2 separate regions of the Homo sapiens genome follow, and region 1 is linked to region 2. A link means that fine-mapping ties the variant in region 2 to the expression of a gene that starts in the linked region. Tissue or cell type: putamen. Region 2 holds a variant in brackets; the other region holds the start of a gene. All regions are shown on one strand. Distances are from middle to middle.

Region 1 (8,097 bases), 830 kb before region 2:
CAAGATTACACCGTTGCACTCCAGCCTGGGCAACAAGAGTGAAACTCCGTCTTAGAAAATAATAATAATAATATTGTTATGAACATTTGTGTACAAGTTTTTGTGTGAACATCTGTTTTAAATTCTCTTGGAATTGCTGGGTCAAATGGAAACTCCATGTTTAACTTTCTAAGGAACTGCCACAATCACAGCTTTTATTTCTTACAAAATCCAAAGTGAAAAATTATATATACTAGACAGTCAGAAGCCTGGGCAAATCGGTTACTCATCAGATACCAAGATGCAGCAATGATTTTGGGAGTTTTTAATCGCAAAAAAGGTTGTGTCAGAGAAATTGCTTTGAGGTGGAGAGAAAATAAAGGTACTGTCTTTCTTTTTAAAATGAAAATGAATTTAAATCTGGTTCATCTCTAAGTTTTTGTTTGAGTGGCCAGCTCTTGTACAGCCAGTGGTCTCAGAATGTTCAGGCAAAGTTCCTCCCCAGAAAATTTGCACAGTAGAGGAAACTACAATATTTCTTAGCTGTTCTGTAGAGTCACATTGGTGGGGAACAGAGGGTCTCTGCAAACCTAGGATGTAACTAAGAGGGGAGCATGTGCTTAAGGTTGGAATAGGTCTGCCTCCACTCTTTCCAGGACTTAAATCGTGTCAGAAAACATGAAGAGAAAGAAAATCCCCAAAGGCAATTTGAGTGGATGGGAGAGAATCTCATGAAATGGAAGGAGCCGAATAGGTTGCTGGGCCCTGAAAAGGCATAAGGCTTGAGTGACCCATAAAAGCTATAGGTTTTCCCAAACACTGCATGTTCTCACTCATAAGTGGGAGTTGAACAGTGAGAACACATGGACACAGGGAGGGGAACATCACACACCGAGGCATGTTGTGGGGGGTGAGGCAAGGGGAGGGAGAGCATTAGGACAAATACCTAACGCATGCAGGCTTAAAACCTAGATGACGGGTTGATGGGTACAGCAAACCACCATGGCACATGTATACCTATGTAACAAACCTGTACATTTTGCACATGTATCCCAGAACTTAAAGTAAATTAAAAAAAAAGTTGAACATGGAAAAAATAATTCATAAAAAAAGCTATGGGTTTTCTCCCTAGAAAAACCCATACATCACAACATTATTCCAGCACTTTCATAAGGTCCTCATATCACCCCTGAAGCCTATCTGTGGCCCCCTGTGAGTCTACATGAGTAGAGAGAGAATTGAAATCCACAGTTTACCTGCAAACTTCATTTTAGGCTGTAGTTGTAAACCGTCCCCAAAATACCCAAATACCCCCATAAAAACAATATAGAAAGCCCACGTGGTGGTGGTTTTTTTTGTTTTGTTTTGTTTTTTTGTTTGTTTTTTGTTTGTTTTTTGAGATGGAGTCTTGCTCTGTCGCCCAGGCTAGAGTGCAGTGGCCTGATCTCGACTCACTGCAAGCTCCGCCTCCCAGGTTCACGCCATTCTCCTGCCTTAGCTTCCCGAGTAGCTGGGACTTCAGGCGCCCGACACCATGCCCGGCTAATTTTTTGTATTTTCAGTAGAGACGGGATTTCACCGTGTTGGCCAGGATGGTGTCGATCTTCTGACCTTGTGATCCGCCCGCCTCGGCCTCCCAAAGTGCTGGAGTTACAGGCGTGAGCCACCGTGCCCGGCTGCCCACGTGTTTTTATATCAGATTAATTTACTCGGAGAAGAATGGCCTGGTTTTCATTTGCCTTCTATTTGGGCACCGTTATTGTTAATTTCAGTAACCAAAATGAAGGGAATAAAAAGGAAAGTAAGAGGTAAAAGCTTGTATTCCCAAACCAGAGAATCTACACTGAAATCAAAAGTCTAATGCTTTATTTTTTTGGCTAAACTTTGGTCCATTCTAAGTTGACCATACCTTCCCTGGTGAACAGAAAGAGAAGAAAAGAAAATAAAGAAATTTTAATTTTTAAGAAAGGTTTAAGGTTTTTGTTTTTGTTTTTGTTTTTTTTTTTTTTTTTGAAGGACTACACTTTAACAGATTTTCAATCTGTTGGATCAGCTTTTTTAGAATGTTATGCATTGCCACGCTATGCTTTTTGGGAAGAAGTCTCTTGAGTTTTTAAAGTAATCATAGTTCATCTTACCTTTTTCAAATAATCTGATCTATTTTTTGTGACAACTGCTATGTTGGGGGACCTAGTGAAGCCCAAGGTTTTCATGAATTACACCTCAATTCAGCCATCAGGATTAATATGTTTAAATTCCAGTTGGACAGCCCACTGTTAGCTGATACCTAATAGAAAATACCTGACTTCTAAGTCCCCCATCATGTCTCCCCTGTTTCAACAGCACTACCCTTATCTCTCAGCCAATCAGGCCATAAAGGGTTAAGATCACTAGTTTCCTTTTGAATATTAACATTTCACAATATTGTGTACATGTGTGCATGCCACTTACAGCACTGAACCCTATTGATCCTTACCTCTATGATCTTCCCTAATCTTCATTGCATCATGTCAATGACTAATCATGAGAGATCAGGCAGTCTGACTTCTAGGTCTGCATTTGGGACCTCTATGCTTTTCTGCCTCCATAATTATTTTGTTTATGCAATAAAATAAAATAATAAAATAGGAAAAGCAGGTTAAAATGCTGGCTCTGCAACACCAGCCTGAAAGGAATTGCGTCCGCCTCTCTGATGGAAAACAGCTTAGCAATTCGAATATATCACCCCAACAACCATCATCAAAAGAGAACCCTGGGACCTGCCATAAAGCAAATGCTTGGTGTGAATCAATGGATGGCTGAGTAAATAGCCAAAAGTGAACTGCAAGCAGCAGGAATGGATTTGAGAAAAATCAACAATTCAGCATGGCCCTCAGATACGGTGTGGGCCTTCCAAGGCCTGCGCGTGCTTGCTGCAGGGAAAGAGAGTAAACCAGAAGCCTAGTTTTGAAGGGGAACAGGTTACCTACTGGCACCAGCCTCTGTTGATTACACACCGCAAGAGCCTGGAGAGGAAGCAGGTGAATCCAGTTTTCTCTGTCTCTAAACACCTCAGTTTACCTAGCTCTATTGTGGGGGTCTTGCAATTTCAAGTTCCTTCTGTGATGATCCAAGAAATAATAGGTCTAGCAAGTGCTTTATGTAAACCAAAAAGTGCCGGCACAAGGTTGAGGAGGCAGCACTGACCAGGTGTGTCCAGGGTAAACTCTCTAGAGGAGCGTTTCATAAATTGAACGTGCATTGGGATCTCCTGGGAATTTTGATGAAATGAACATCCCGCTTCATGGGTCTGGAGTGGGGCCTCAGCGATGCTAACAAGCTTCCAGGTGATGCTGATGCTGCCGGTCCGCGGACCACACTCCGGAGTAGCAAGGGGCCAGAAGGGCCAAATCTGCCTGCGTGGAGGGAAGTCGGGGAGATGGGGAGAATGGAAAGAAGGACGGTAGAAGGGAAGCTGCTAGGAAGGAGAGATCGGTGCGGGGAGGAGGGGGGTTCCAAGAAGAAGGGGGAGGCTGCGGTGCTGGAGCGAGGATGCGCAGACCGAGGCAGGGAGGCGGGGGTGCGGGAGGCTCCGCGGCTGCGCGGGCGCGTGCTGGTGGCCTCGGCGGAGGCTCAGTCCCGGCCCGCGCCCGCGGCGCCCCCGCTGCGGCCCGAGCGGCCTGGCTGCGGGATCTGTGCGCACGGATGGCGCGGCCGCCCCGGCAGCACCCGGGGGTCTGGGCGTCGCTGCTCCTGCTGCTACTGACGGGGCCCGCCGCCTGCGCAGCCAGCCCCGCGGACGACGGTGCGGGCCCGGGGGGCCGGGGACCCCGGGGACGCGCGCGGGGGGACACGGGCGCCGACGAGGCGGTGCCGCGCCACGACTCCTCCTACGGCACCTTCGCGGGGGAGTTCTACGACCTGCGCTACCTGTCGGAGGAGGGTGAGGCTGCGGGAGGGCGAGGGGTTGCGGGAGGGGAGACCGGGGGTGGGGGACCGAGGATCGGGGGAACGAGGAGAGGGGGCGAGGGAGGGGGAGGGGGTCGGAAAAGATGTCCGTGGAGGCAGCTCTTGCAGAGGCGAGGCCAGGATGGGGAGCGCAGTGCCCAGGCCTCCGCCGGCCTGGAGGAAAGGCCCAAAGAGCTGTCAATGCCTGCCGCCCGCTTTACAGATGGGGAGAGTGAGGCTGGGAGAGGGAGGGGTCATCCAAGTTCTGCAAGGCTGTGGATAGGGGTGGGTGCTGAGTCTAAGCTCCCCCAGTTCTTAGATCTGGCTTCCACCTTTGCCGCCTGGGGTTGGGTTATAGGGGAGGAGGCCGCCATCTGGCCAGGGCAGCTAGGGGGAAGCAGAAAAACCCCAACCTAAAGAGAGAGGTTGCCTTATTTCCTCCCTGTCTGTATTGACTTAAATTTGCAGTGACCAGCGCCCACCTCGTAGCATTCTGTTCCTGCTCACTGACCCGTCAGAGCTGGGTCACATCAGCCTCCCCACTCCCATCCCTCCTCTTTTATGACGCCACATATGTTATGGTCCCCTAGTGCGAGCCACCATTGTTGTGGCCTGCTGGGCCCGCAGACTGGGAGTTTGTCAGCCAAGGGCCTCCCTGTAGAGCTGCTTCAACGAGCACAAAAGCCAAGCGGATGGTGGTCAGAAGGAATGGAAACTGGCCTCTTTAAGCAACTTTGGGAAGTAGTGACTTTCCTTTTCTTCTGCTAAGAGGGATATCCAACCATCAAGCTGGGGTTTGAAGTGTTGAGTCCCAGGAGCTCATATCTGTTAGTGGATGTGTCTGTTGTTAGGATTAAGTTCAGCTGTATACAACAAGCAAACATTAATAGCTTCAACAAGATAGAAGTTTCTCTCTTACAGAAAGAAAACTAGAAATAGGTAATCCAGAACTGGTCTGGAGGCTCCTTGGTCACCAGTGTCTCTGGATCCTGCCCTTCTGTTTCTTCACAATTCTTAGCATGTAACTTCATGGTTCAAAATAACTGCTTGAGCTACAGCCATTATGTTCACATTCTAGACAGTGGGAAAAATGAAGCAGGAAGAAGGTCACTGACTACTTTATAAAGGGATTACTCGGAAGTTTCATATAACAATTTTTATACTTCTTTGGCCACAACTTAATCATATGGTTGCACATAGGTACAAAGGAGGATGTAAAATAGAGCCTATTAGCTGAGACATAATATGCCCAGTTCAAAAATCAGAATTATTGTATTAAAGAAGATGGAGAGAATGGATTTGGGGAAATGTATTAAGTAGAGGCTTAACTGCTGAATTAGAGATTTTAACATATAGTGGTTTAAATAAGCTAGTTTATTTTTCTCTCTGATAAGAGTCTGGTTGGTCTGGGGCTGGTGGGATGACTCTGTTCCGCAAGGTCATTCAGGGACCCGGGTTCTTTCCATCTTGTTGCTCTGCCATCCCCCTGAGGCTTTGTCCTCATCAGTACAGTAGAAGCCAGGTTGCATGTCCTTGTTCAAGATTGAGGGAAAGAAAAAGAGAAGTTCAGGGCAAGTAGTTACCTTTTAGGCTGGCTGCCCACATTACTGCTGTTCACATTCCTTTGGCAAAAACATAGTTACAATGACCTAGCTTCAAGGGAGACTAAGAAATGTAGTCTTCTAGCTGGAGAGCCATGTGGCGGAATCTGTCACTCTGGAAAAGAATAAATATTCCGAAGCCCGTCTGTTTCTGAAAGCATCTAATGTATCTTTACACTGTACACAGCCTAGTGCTGCCAGGTGACTTAAATGTGGTATGTGAGAACTTGTATTCTGATTGGGCTCATGCATCTAACAAATGAAGGATAAGCTCAGATTCTGTACGTCCTTTGAGTCTCTCTGCAGAGAGAATGATATGTTCATTGTATAGTCCAGAAAGTTTTATGAATGTGGACATCAGGTGGGCCACAGCCATCAAGGACAGCTTTTATAGAGTCAAGCCATGAAGTAGGAAAGACTTCAGTGACACAGAAGAGGGAAGGCATTTAGGTGAGGTGATCACATAGCAGGCAGCAGGGCTTTGTACCGATCCCTAGTGTGTCTGCTTCGCGCCCCCACCATTCTGCACATAAAACTGGTTTAACCCTCCTGAAGTCTGCCTCTAACCTGTTGGCATTGCACTCAAAAGTCTGTGATGGGGCCGGGCGTGGTGCTTCACGACTGTAATCCCAGCACTTTGGGAGGCTGAGGTGGGTGGATCAGGAGGTCAGGAGTTCGAGACTAGCCTGGCCAACATGGTGAAACCCCGTCTCTACTAAAAATACAAAATTAGCCGGGCGTGGTGGTGCACGCCTGTAATCCCAGCTACTCAGGAGGCTGAGGCAGGAGAATTGCTTGAACCCAGGAGGTGGGGAGGTTGCAGTGAGCTGAGATTGCATCATTGCACTCCATCCTGGACAACAGAGTGAGACTCGGTCTCAAAAAAAAAAAAAAAAAATCAACCTGCTCCCTGAATGAATATTCAACTGCTTTATCTGAAATGTCCTCCCTGGCTCAACTTCCTTTTACAACCATATCTCCCCTTCCCTCACCCTGAGCTTTTACTCTCCATTCTTCTCCTACCCTCTTCTCTCTGACAGTTTCATTTCCTCTTTGCATACAGATTCTACCACCATCCGGTGGGTGCTAGTTGAGATGTAAGTGGCGTGGGGCTATCAGAGGCAGTGCCTCTGCTAGATTACCCTGGGCCTAGGCTTCATCCCTGTGGGTCCTGAATAGAGACTTTCCCAAGACGCTTAGAAATAAACAGTGACATTGCCTTAAAAGCGGGGGCTGAGGAGGGGTTGCCAGAGAGAGGGAAGAAGAACCAGGAGAGAGGGGTGTCCCAGAAGGCAAAGGAAAAGAGCCTGTTTCCTACCAAGGTGTGGCCTGATAGCATGAAGGCTCAAAATTATCGATGGTTTCAGGAGATGAGAGGTTATGGGTGGAACTCTCCTAGGACAGATTCAGTGGAGAAGGAAGGAGGGAACCTGACTGACCTTGGAGGACGTGGCAAGTGAAGAAGTGCCGGTAATGCCTTTGACTTATTCTATCAATACACTTGAGGTTGTCCATTTCTAGTGACTAGGCTACTTGTTCCCTCTGTGCAGGGTACCCCCTTCTTATGTCTCAAATAGTCATGAAACTGAGTTCAAAAATCAGAAAAAAAGGAATTTGAATAGTGGAGGTGGGAATGGAAATCCACTGAAACTGAGAGAGAGCCTACTGACCATTACCTACCCTACCCAGAGACTATTTCCCCAGTATCCAGATTGCCCAAAACCCTCAAATCCAGAGGCAGGATGCTGGCTAATTTGCTGTCTCAAGAAAATGATCACCCCCTAACATGGTCATTTTTAAAAACTTAAGTTATGCTAGTGTTCAGAATTCTTTGAGGGTCCCACTGTCTAAGCCTATACTACTCATGCTTACAGTCTCAGCTCAAATGTCACCTCTTTCAGGAAGCCTTCCCTGATTTTCTCCTTCTCCCACAGAAGATATTCTTCCACAGCACACAGTCTGCCGTGACCCTCTTTGCTGTCTATGGTCAGGAGTTCAGATAGGATCTTAGTGCTTGAATCCTACCACTCATACTTCTTTCCCTTGAGGTTCTTAACCCAGAGTCTATATATTCAGAGCAATGATAGAATGTGAAACAGATTACCATTTGATTATGGGCAAATGCTCACTTCTGAGGGTTCTTTGGGGAAAAACAAACAAAACTGAGTTGGATGTTGGCTAAGGGTTAAGTCCCAAATGAAGCTTGCTTCTCCCTGCTGCTAAGATGGCCAGGTTTGGGAAGCAGACCCTCAGTCTTAATCCAGCCAGCTACATGGATGATGTTAACCGCCTGACCCTTGGAGCCATACCCTGCCTAAGAAGGAAAAGACAGAACATCATTTATGGTCACTTATCTTTAAGGCATAGTCATCTGACTACTCGTAAAATGTGGCTCAATCAAGGATTTTCTGACCATTGAGTTCTGATCACAATTTTTCTTGGGAAAGAGCCAGAGAGGTAGAAAGAAGGACAGAACATGGGGCAAAGGGCAGAAGTTTAGTCATCTTCCTATATCCTTCCCCCATCTACCTTGGACGGTATGTGGATATATAACTTACCACTCTACTAATCTGGAAGTCCTTTAAGGGTA
Region 2 (8,107 bases):
AAAATAAATTCAATATTTTAGTTTTGGAAGTATCTTCTATAGTTAAGTTTTAATTTCTGATTATTTGTATTTGTTGTCACAATTGGTACACTTGGTCTCATTTCTGCAGCCTTCTTTCCATAATGCTTCCATACTGGTTTATTTGCTATAGCTTTGTTCTCCAAAGTGGAATGCATAGAACATTAATTGGAGTCCCAGAAGGAAATACTAGTTTTTACATTTCAAAATTAAGATTGATATTAAACTTGACTCATTTAATATAAATTGTCACTGGTTCTTCACGCAGGTCCACAAGTAAGACAGATGCTCTCTGTTTATTGATAGTAAGCAAGGTGGAAGGGAGTGATTTCCAGAGGGTGGGGGTGAATGACAATGACACTTTTACATTCTGCAAACTTTTGACTCACTGAAGTTTGTGTGCCCAGTTAGGTGGATTTAAGAGTTATTTAATTTGCTTTTATGTAAGCTGTCAAAATTTACAAGAATCTTAAGATAATTCCAAAAAAAAGAAGCAGGTTAAAAGTAATGCCCATGATACAGACAAGAACAATAATGACAACCCGTCTGTCTCCCCACCCCCTCCCTCCCACCCCCACCCCAAAAGGCCCAGCTAATGCTTTCCATTTTCCTGGCAGGAGTGCTCCATCAGCCACATTATGAGGTAATAGAGAGCATTTTCAAAACGGATGTTTGGAAATGTTTCTCAGTGTTTCCATTGCTATGTGATACATTGCTGAAAACGATAGAAATGTTACACCTATAAAAAATAATCTGTGGTATCAACACACTTAAAGGATTTAAAATAGAATTTTTATAATCTTTGAAAGTTTTTAGAGAATTTTAAACCCTTTGTTGAGGCAAAAAACTATAACATGTACTGATTCCTTTTCAAGAACAATTGATCATGGAAGATGGAAACTTACTACCAAATTTCAACAAGAACAATTACATAATTGATGGGTGGAATCGATTATAAATGTCATGATTATTAAGTACAGCCAATGACACACTTCTTTCCCTTGCGTTTCTCTCTCTGTGAAGGATCTTATTCAGTTACTACAGCCATGAAAACCAAGTTTGAAATAAAAATTGACCCAGAATCATACCTTTGGGTTGCTATATTGCAAGATATGTAACCAACAGTTTCAAAAACATTGAAAAATTTAAACATTCTGCTCTCACTGAATGTTACTATTATTTCAGTGAAAGAAAGAAAAATGTTGTTTGTGTTGTTAATAAATACAATAAATTTATTTTAAACTAGTGTTATTTCAAGTTCATCTTTTTAATGATTTTATTGTATAATATATGCACATATCCATGTATATACAATAGTACATATATTTATATACAATTTATTAAGAAATCACTAAAGTGAGTATACATTGCTTAAAAAGTCTTAGTAATAAAAATAGAAGTTGCAATCTTTTTATTTAGTCTTTTTTCCTTTAATTTCTTTAAAATTTTGAATATATTTTCTTTAATTGGTGATGCTGAAAATTAAACTATACTTATTTCCATTGTGTAAGTAATGTAATATACTTGTCTAGAGCTTTCCCACATGTTCTAATTTTTATTGATAGTAATTTGTGACTCTGGCCCAAATGATTATCATTTTCATCACACAGCTTCTCTTTTAAGAATTGTTAAAACCATCTGTATTAATTTATGAAACTATATTTATAGTTATTTAAACAACTCTTTATTTAGTTTCATTTGTACCACTGAGGCTTTTGGCCACAACCTCCAATTTAAATTTTAAAATTTTGGTTTATGTCTTGGTTAAATCTTCAAGTAATTTTATCCATATATGCTTCCCGGAAGCATATATAGATGATATAATTAACATGTCTTATATCCTTGGGTACAATTTTTGTCAGCCACATTACACAGAGTAATTGTTTAGTTATAGAATCTATTGTCACATCTTTTCCCCTAAAAATACTCCAGAGATTACCGCATTTTTTTTTTTTTCTGGAAGTTTGCAACACAGGGGCATCTATGACTAGCTGAGGTCTTATCTCTATTGTATTTTTAAATGCTATTTTCCCCTGAGGTTTACAATTCTGTAGTTCTTCTGGTTTCTCCTAGGCTCACTCTGATGGCTGCAGTCATCAGTGGCTTACAGGGCTAGGGGTCTAAAGTGGCCTTACACACAGTCTGGGGCTGGTACTGGATGTCACAGCGTCTTTCTCTATCCATTCTTTTAACTTCCCTAGTCTCCTTACTTGGTGAAGGGAAGGTTTTCAAGAGGTGAGGTCAGGAGCTCAAGGCCTGAGCTCCACACACAATGTCACTCCTGCCACATTCCACTGGTGTAAACAAGTCATGAGGCCAGGCAGTTTTCTTCCACTTCTGGACAGAAGGTGCAGCAAAGTCATATCGCAAAGGTGCAGGTAGCCTGGGAGGGGAGGAATTTGCAGCCATTAAGCAATCTACCACACCAACAGTCCCCCAACATTCAACTTAACAAACAGAAGTTTTTCTCCTTTCATGTGATGATTCAGGGTCTCAGTTTCCTTCCATCCCTGAGGACCCCTGAGCCCTCCCTCTCCAGCCAGCCAAAATGGAAATATGTGGTGGGGAAGGCACACTTTCTTCTTCAAAACCCCATTTCAGAAGAGATCTTCACTTCTGCTCATGTGTCTTTGGCAAGAACTGTTCATATAGCTGTACCCTGAAGGAAGGGGCAGGTGGCACCCAGAATAATCATGGAAGGGGAACCATGAACTTTTGGTGGACAATTACGGTTGTTTTTTTTTTTTTTCCTTTTTTTCTTCCACTGATGACTCTATTATCAGTGACTGGTTCAGAAAAACGCTGGAATCTTTCTGAGATGCAAATTAGCATATTTGTGTGCTTATTTGTTAGAGTAATTATTTCAAAAGAAGCATTTCTGTCTCTTCAAGATGATCTTCTTATTTGGACCTGCAGTATCTTTTCTTTACCTAGGATCCCCAAGGTGGCCCTGTTTGGGTGGCCTTCCAATCTTATAGTGGTCTCTTGCTTCTCTTGTGAGCAATTTCTTCTGGAAGCTTTCCTGGCTTAAGAAAAAGCCTAGCCTCAGAATGGCATTTTGATCATTGGATTTTCCTTTTCCAATATCTCTTTTACCCTTTTCAAATTAATTGGTCTGACATAAATTGTCTAGGTCCCTCCACTCCCTTGCCACTTTCTTTGTCACAGGGACAATCATAAATAGAGTCTGAATGGTATCTTAGGTTCATTACCATCAGCCTACATGAAATATATACTCCCTGGTGTGGCAGGCATATGTATGGCACCCTTCCTACTTTCCAACACTGATGCTGGTTTTTCCCTAATTTTATATCCACTGGTCATCTCATGTGTCTGAGGGTGGAAGGCGGAGTGTTCAATGCCTGCACTTACATCATCATCAGATGCAGGGAAATTACAGTCTTACATTTAAATGCTATGGAAATTATATGGTCTGTGATATCAGTTTCTTTAAAACACCTTATAAACTTTCACTTTGCAGAACTATCATAAATCTGTTTAATTCAACAGTTTACACGAGGTACTCCAGTATTCCAGTTGGAAGTAAACTGTTTTTCTGCTTGATTGAAACTTTGCACTGTTGGAAGTTGTTAAGAATACCA[C/T]GTATTGCAGTCAAATATCTCCATATCTGATAATCAAAAATAGTAATAGCTCACATGTGTGTCCACTTAGCGAGGAGTTCCTGAGGCTGCAATGTTCTAGAAGTGACACTCAGCACTGGGGTGCAGGCCTCAGGTATAGAGATTCTGCCTTCAAGTTGCCCACACTCATTGGAGAGCAGACAGATAATTCAATGATAATGATGTGACGACGTTTTGGAATATCACCATTGTGCTTTCCTTTCTCTACCCCATTGCACTTGGCCTTTCCACCAGGGGAAGCAGGACTAAAAGGGTGAAAAATACCAGCGAGCTTTTCTTTTTCTTTTTGTTTTTTGACCTTCAAAATGGGCTTTTGATACCCAAAAGGAAGATTTGAGGGAAGCATGGTGCAAACTTTATGCCACACAGTTAATTTGAAACAGTTCTCTGTCTCACTTCTGGAGAAGAGTTCCTGGGCTGGGGCATGGTCTGGAGGGAAGGAGGAGAAGTTACCTTGTGGAGTTTGGTGGTGCCAGACAGGAGAGGGTCATATTTGGGTGCCCACAGAAAGGAGGGCAGGCTCAACAGAATGACTCTCTCCAACTTCATCCAAGACCTTGCTGAGCTGTGAAAGTGCCCTCTGTGGATGGTCCCTCTTTTCCAAGGTTTGGGGTACCTATATATCTCCGTCAAAAAAAAAAGACTAAGGGTTATGACATCATGAGAAGCTGTTAATGATAGTAAAGAAGACTGCACAAAGGTAACCACTTGCTTTTCCCAGAGAGTCACAATTCAGGAATCTAAAATCAATTTTTCTGTGGATGGCTATTGAACAATGAGAAAAGGATCAGTGCTGAGAGGTGGGGTGTCACCAAAGGGAGTTTCTATAGCCTAAACTTATGTATTGCTGGATAAGACCAGCAAGAGGGTGTCTCTGATAACACAGGCAGTATGATTATAGTTGTAGGATTTTAGTAGCATGGTTTTTGAACTCAATATGAAAACATCCAGCAAAAGACTCCCAAATGTATTTATATGAGAAACTTTACAAAGCCATGTGAATCAAATCATGTACAACCATATGTTGAATAAAATCCGCCTTAATTCAAGAAATAATTACATAAAATCAGTATCTTCCTGGAACACCCTACTTACCACCCAAAGCACAGAGTAGAGAAAATATTATGAGCATTCTAAAATTGAGCATGTACGTATGACATAAGTAACATGTAAACATACTTTTATTTGTAAAAACAAACAAAAACATGGTTGATGGGATTGTGGGAGGGCTTCTTATTTTTCCAGTTTCAAATAATGAGCATGTATTTTATAATTAGAAAAATGTGATTATAATTTTTTAACATAGAAAATTGAGGATATATTATAATGAATAAAGAATTCTTAAAATTTTCTCTCTCAATTTGCTTGATATACCTATCAGAATAATAATTTATATACACACTTGAAATTTAATGTATTAATTGTTATTCTGATAGGTTTATCAAGAAAATTAAGAGAGAAAATTTTAAGAATTATTATTATGGTTTTTTAGAGGGAGATTATTTTTGTTTTTGTCCAACACCTGTTGGAGCTGTAACTCTACCTGAAGAATTTGACATTTTCATCATGACTAATAAAAGACTGCTGCTTCGAAAAGAAGAAAAAAAAGTAATTCTTTGTTCTTGAAATCAAAGACAAAGAATCATGTAGCTCTGTTTCCTCTAACTTACTTCATTCAGTTTGACTTATTTTAACATCTATTCCATGTCCTGTTTCAATACCCTGCTAGACATTGATCTCAACATTTCATTAGGAATTCTTGGTGGAAAGAAATTATTCTGAACATTTGTTCCTTGTTCTTACAGTAAATGAAGTGTCATTTACATTTCACATCTTTTCCTGCTAACCTGTAATCTCTTGAAGACTTTAGTAGTTTTCCATTATTAGCTCACAGACATTTATTATCATTTTCCCTCTTGATTTATGCTGAAACCTCAGTGATTGAATCATGATTCTCAGAATCATTATATAAAATTGTGTAAGTGCTCCATGAGCAAAAATATTTCTTTAAACTTCTTGACAACAAACTAAAGGAATTGGTTTCCTAGCTTTTCTCTTTATAAAAGGGCTGTGTTGTTATAATGGCACAATTTTAGCTTCTGTAGTTTGATCCTGTGTGAAGAGGTACAAATGTAGATTCTCGAAATGGCATTTTAGGGTGGAAAGAGCACCAGCATTAGAAGTGACAGACCTGAGTTTTCATCTTCAACACTCGGATAATTACTTGCTGTGTATTCTTCAGACAAGACTCTTCTGAGTCTCTGTTTTCTTGTTTTAGAGTCAGATTAAAAAAGAAACAGCTCCTTCTCAGAGTTGTTTTGAGGATGACAAATATAGTAAGTACCCTGTATGCAGCAAAAGCTCAATAAATGATAGTAATAGTTTATTCATATTTTTGCTCTTTGCTCTATCAATTCCTACTTTGGCAGAATGGCTGGCACATGGTGAATGATGAACACTGTGGCTCTCAGTTTTGGAATTTAGGAAAGCATAGTCTAGGATACAGGAGCTCTTATCTGTATAGTAGGCTTTAAAGTTCAACTGCTTCTTTTAGTATGCAAAGAACAGAGTGCTCAGTCACATGCTTGTGGTAACTAAGTAAGACAGCTACCACTATTGACATTTTAACTATGAACTTTGAAATACAACCAGAAAATCAGGAGGTTACCTCATTTTGTTAGCTGTGAACTCATTTACTTTTAAAATCAATAAATATTCATTGAGCACCTACCAAGTCCCTGGATACAGTGTGAAAAGGACAGGCAAGGCCTTTGGTTGCCTGGAAATGGCTTTTGAGTAGGGAGAGAGATAAATGAATACACAAAATAATTAGAGCTTGTCTGACATGTTGAGTAGCTCAGCTGAGAGCAACAGTGAACTTAGGACAGAGTGATTCCGGTCCTGGAAAACCTAGGTATAGGGTAACATTTAAGCTGCAGTGAGAAGCTGCAATTCTTCAGCGAGTGGGGTAAGATTGGTTCAGGAAGCCAGGAAAACACGTGCAAAGCCCCAAATCCAGGAATATGGGAAATTTGATAAATATCCAGGTTGTTTTCAGGGGCATGATAATCTTTTCTTTGATCATTCCACTTACTGAATAAGAGCTGATGAAGTGGAGCGTGACTCTTGCTAGCCATATATTAATATATTCTGGTACAAGATAGTCCAGAAGATTATATATAGGCAGGCAGAATTTTCTCTAAAACAGGTTTAATGGTCACTAAATAAAAACTATTCAGCCCTCTTGTTTGGTATTATAATTAGTAATAATGACACTAATACCATAGTTATATAGAACACTTGTAATTCACAGAATGTCAAGGAAATATTAGACTATTAAGTGGAGCTGGGGAATTGGGGTTGAGATCTATTTCCTCAGGCTCTCATGGGCACTGTTGATGTTCTCATCATCCAAGTCCACAAAATATCTTAGTTCGGGGAGATCTGAAGCTTCCATAGCAAGCTTGATTCCAAAATCGTTGCTTTGCCTAGGAGCTCCAGTGACAGGACACTCACAGGACCTCTCAGATCTCATCACCTCTTGTGCTATAGAAATCCTCTCTCCTCTATACTTTTTTCTTTTTTTTGAGATGGAGTCTCGCTCTGTCGCCCAGGCTGGAGTGCAGTGGTGCAATCTCGGCTCACTGTAAGCTTTGCCTCCCCGGTTCACGCCATGCCTCAGCCTCCCGAGCAGCAGTGACTACAGGCACCCGCCACCACGCCTGGCTAATTTTTGGTATTTTTAGTAGAGACGGGGTTTCACTGTGTTAGCCAGGATGGTCTCGATCTCCTGACCTCATGATCCGCCCGCCTTGGCCTCCCAAAGTGGTGGGACTACAGGCGTGAGCCACCGTGCCCGGCCTCCTCTATACTTTTGTGAGCCTCTGTTCTCCACTCAAAGGCACTCACTGCTCCAATCTCCTCAGCAAAGCTTTCTGAAGGTCTCACTTTTGGAAGCCAAGAGCCTGGGAGAAGATTGACTGTAGGCAAGAGAATGACCCTGGCTGCCCTTTTGAAATGGGGTGGGGAAAATAGAGTAAGAGCCAGACCCTAACATTTTCCATATCTGGAAGCCCAGAATGTAATAGAAATTTAGGTTCTGTTTTATCAAAGCTACACAAGTACGTATTTCTATGAAAAGCCTCTGCTCCTATGTTCCTGCACACAGAGGCCACCACTTGCAACCCTTCTAATAGAATCTTTTAGCATATATTTTCATGTATTTAAATCAAGCTTATGTTGCTACATCTTGATTTGTAAAAATCATTTTAAGTATGACTATTGATTCCCCATTATTGTATATGAGGATTTACCTTTATTCATATTTCTCATTCCCGCATTCTCTCAATATAATTTTATGGCCATATAAAAATGATTTATATCTGAGCATGAAGTATTGTGTGATTACTTTTCGTGCACAATATTTTGTTGCCTTTGGAATTAATCTT

Evidence for each region. PIP is the estimated chance that this variant, and not a neighbour inherited with it, causes the effect.
Region 1: FRRS1L starts here. The variant in region 2 is fine-mapped to the expression of FRRS1L in putamen (GTEx, PIP 0.99).

The regions. Positions count from the first base shown.
Region 1 is chr9:109,162,705-109,170,801 of GRCh38, reverse strand. It overlaps FRRS1L (ferric chelate reductase 1 like), which reads left to right and starts at 3,553. Exons shown (of 5, transcript NM_014334.4): 1 at 3,553-3,901. The coding sequence starts at 3,664.
Region 2 is chr9:108,332,015-108,340,121 of GRCh38, reverse strand. All of the region lies in intron 2 of LOC105376214 (a long non-coding RNA gene), which reads left to right. Among named protein-coding and RNA genes, the nearest start is that of ACTL7B, 520 kb to the left of the region's middle. The variant C/T (reference allele first, on the strand shown) is at 3,621.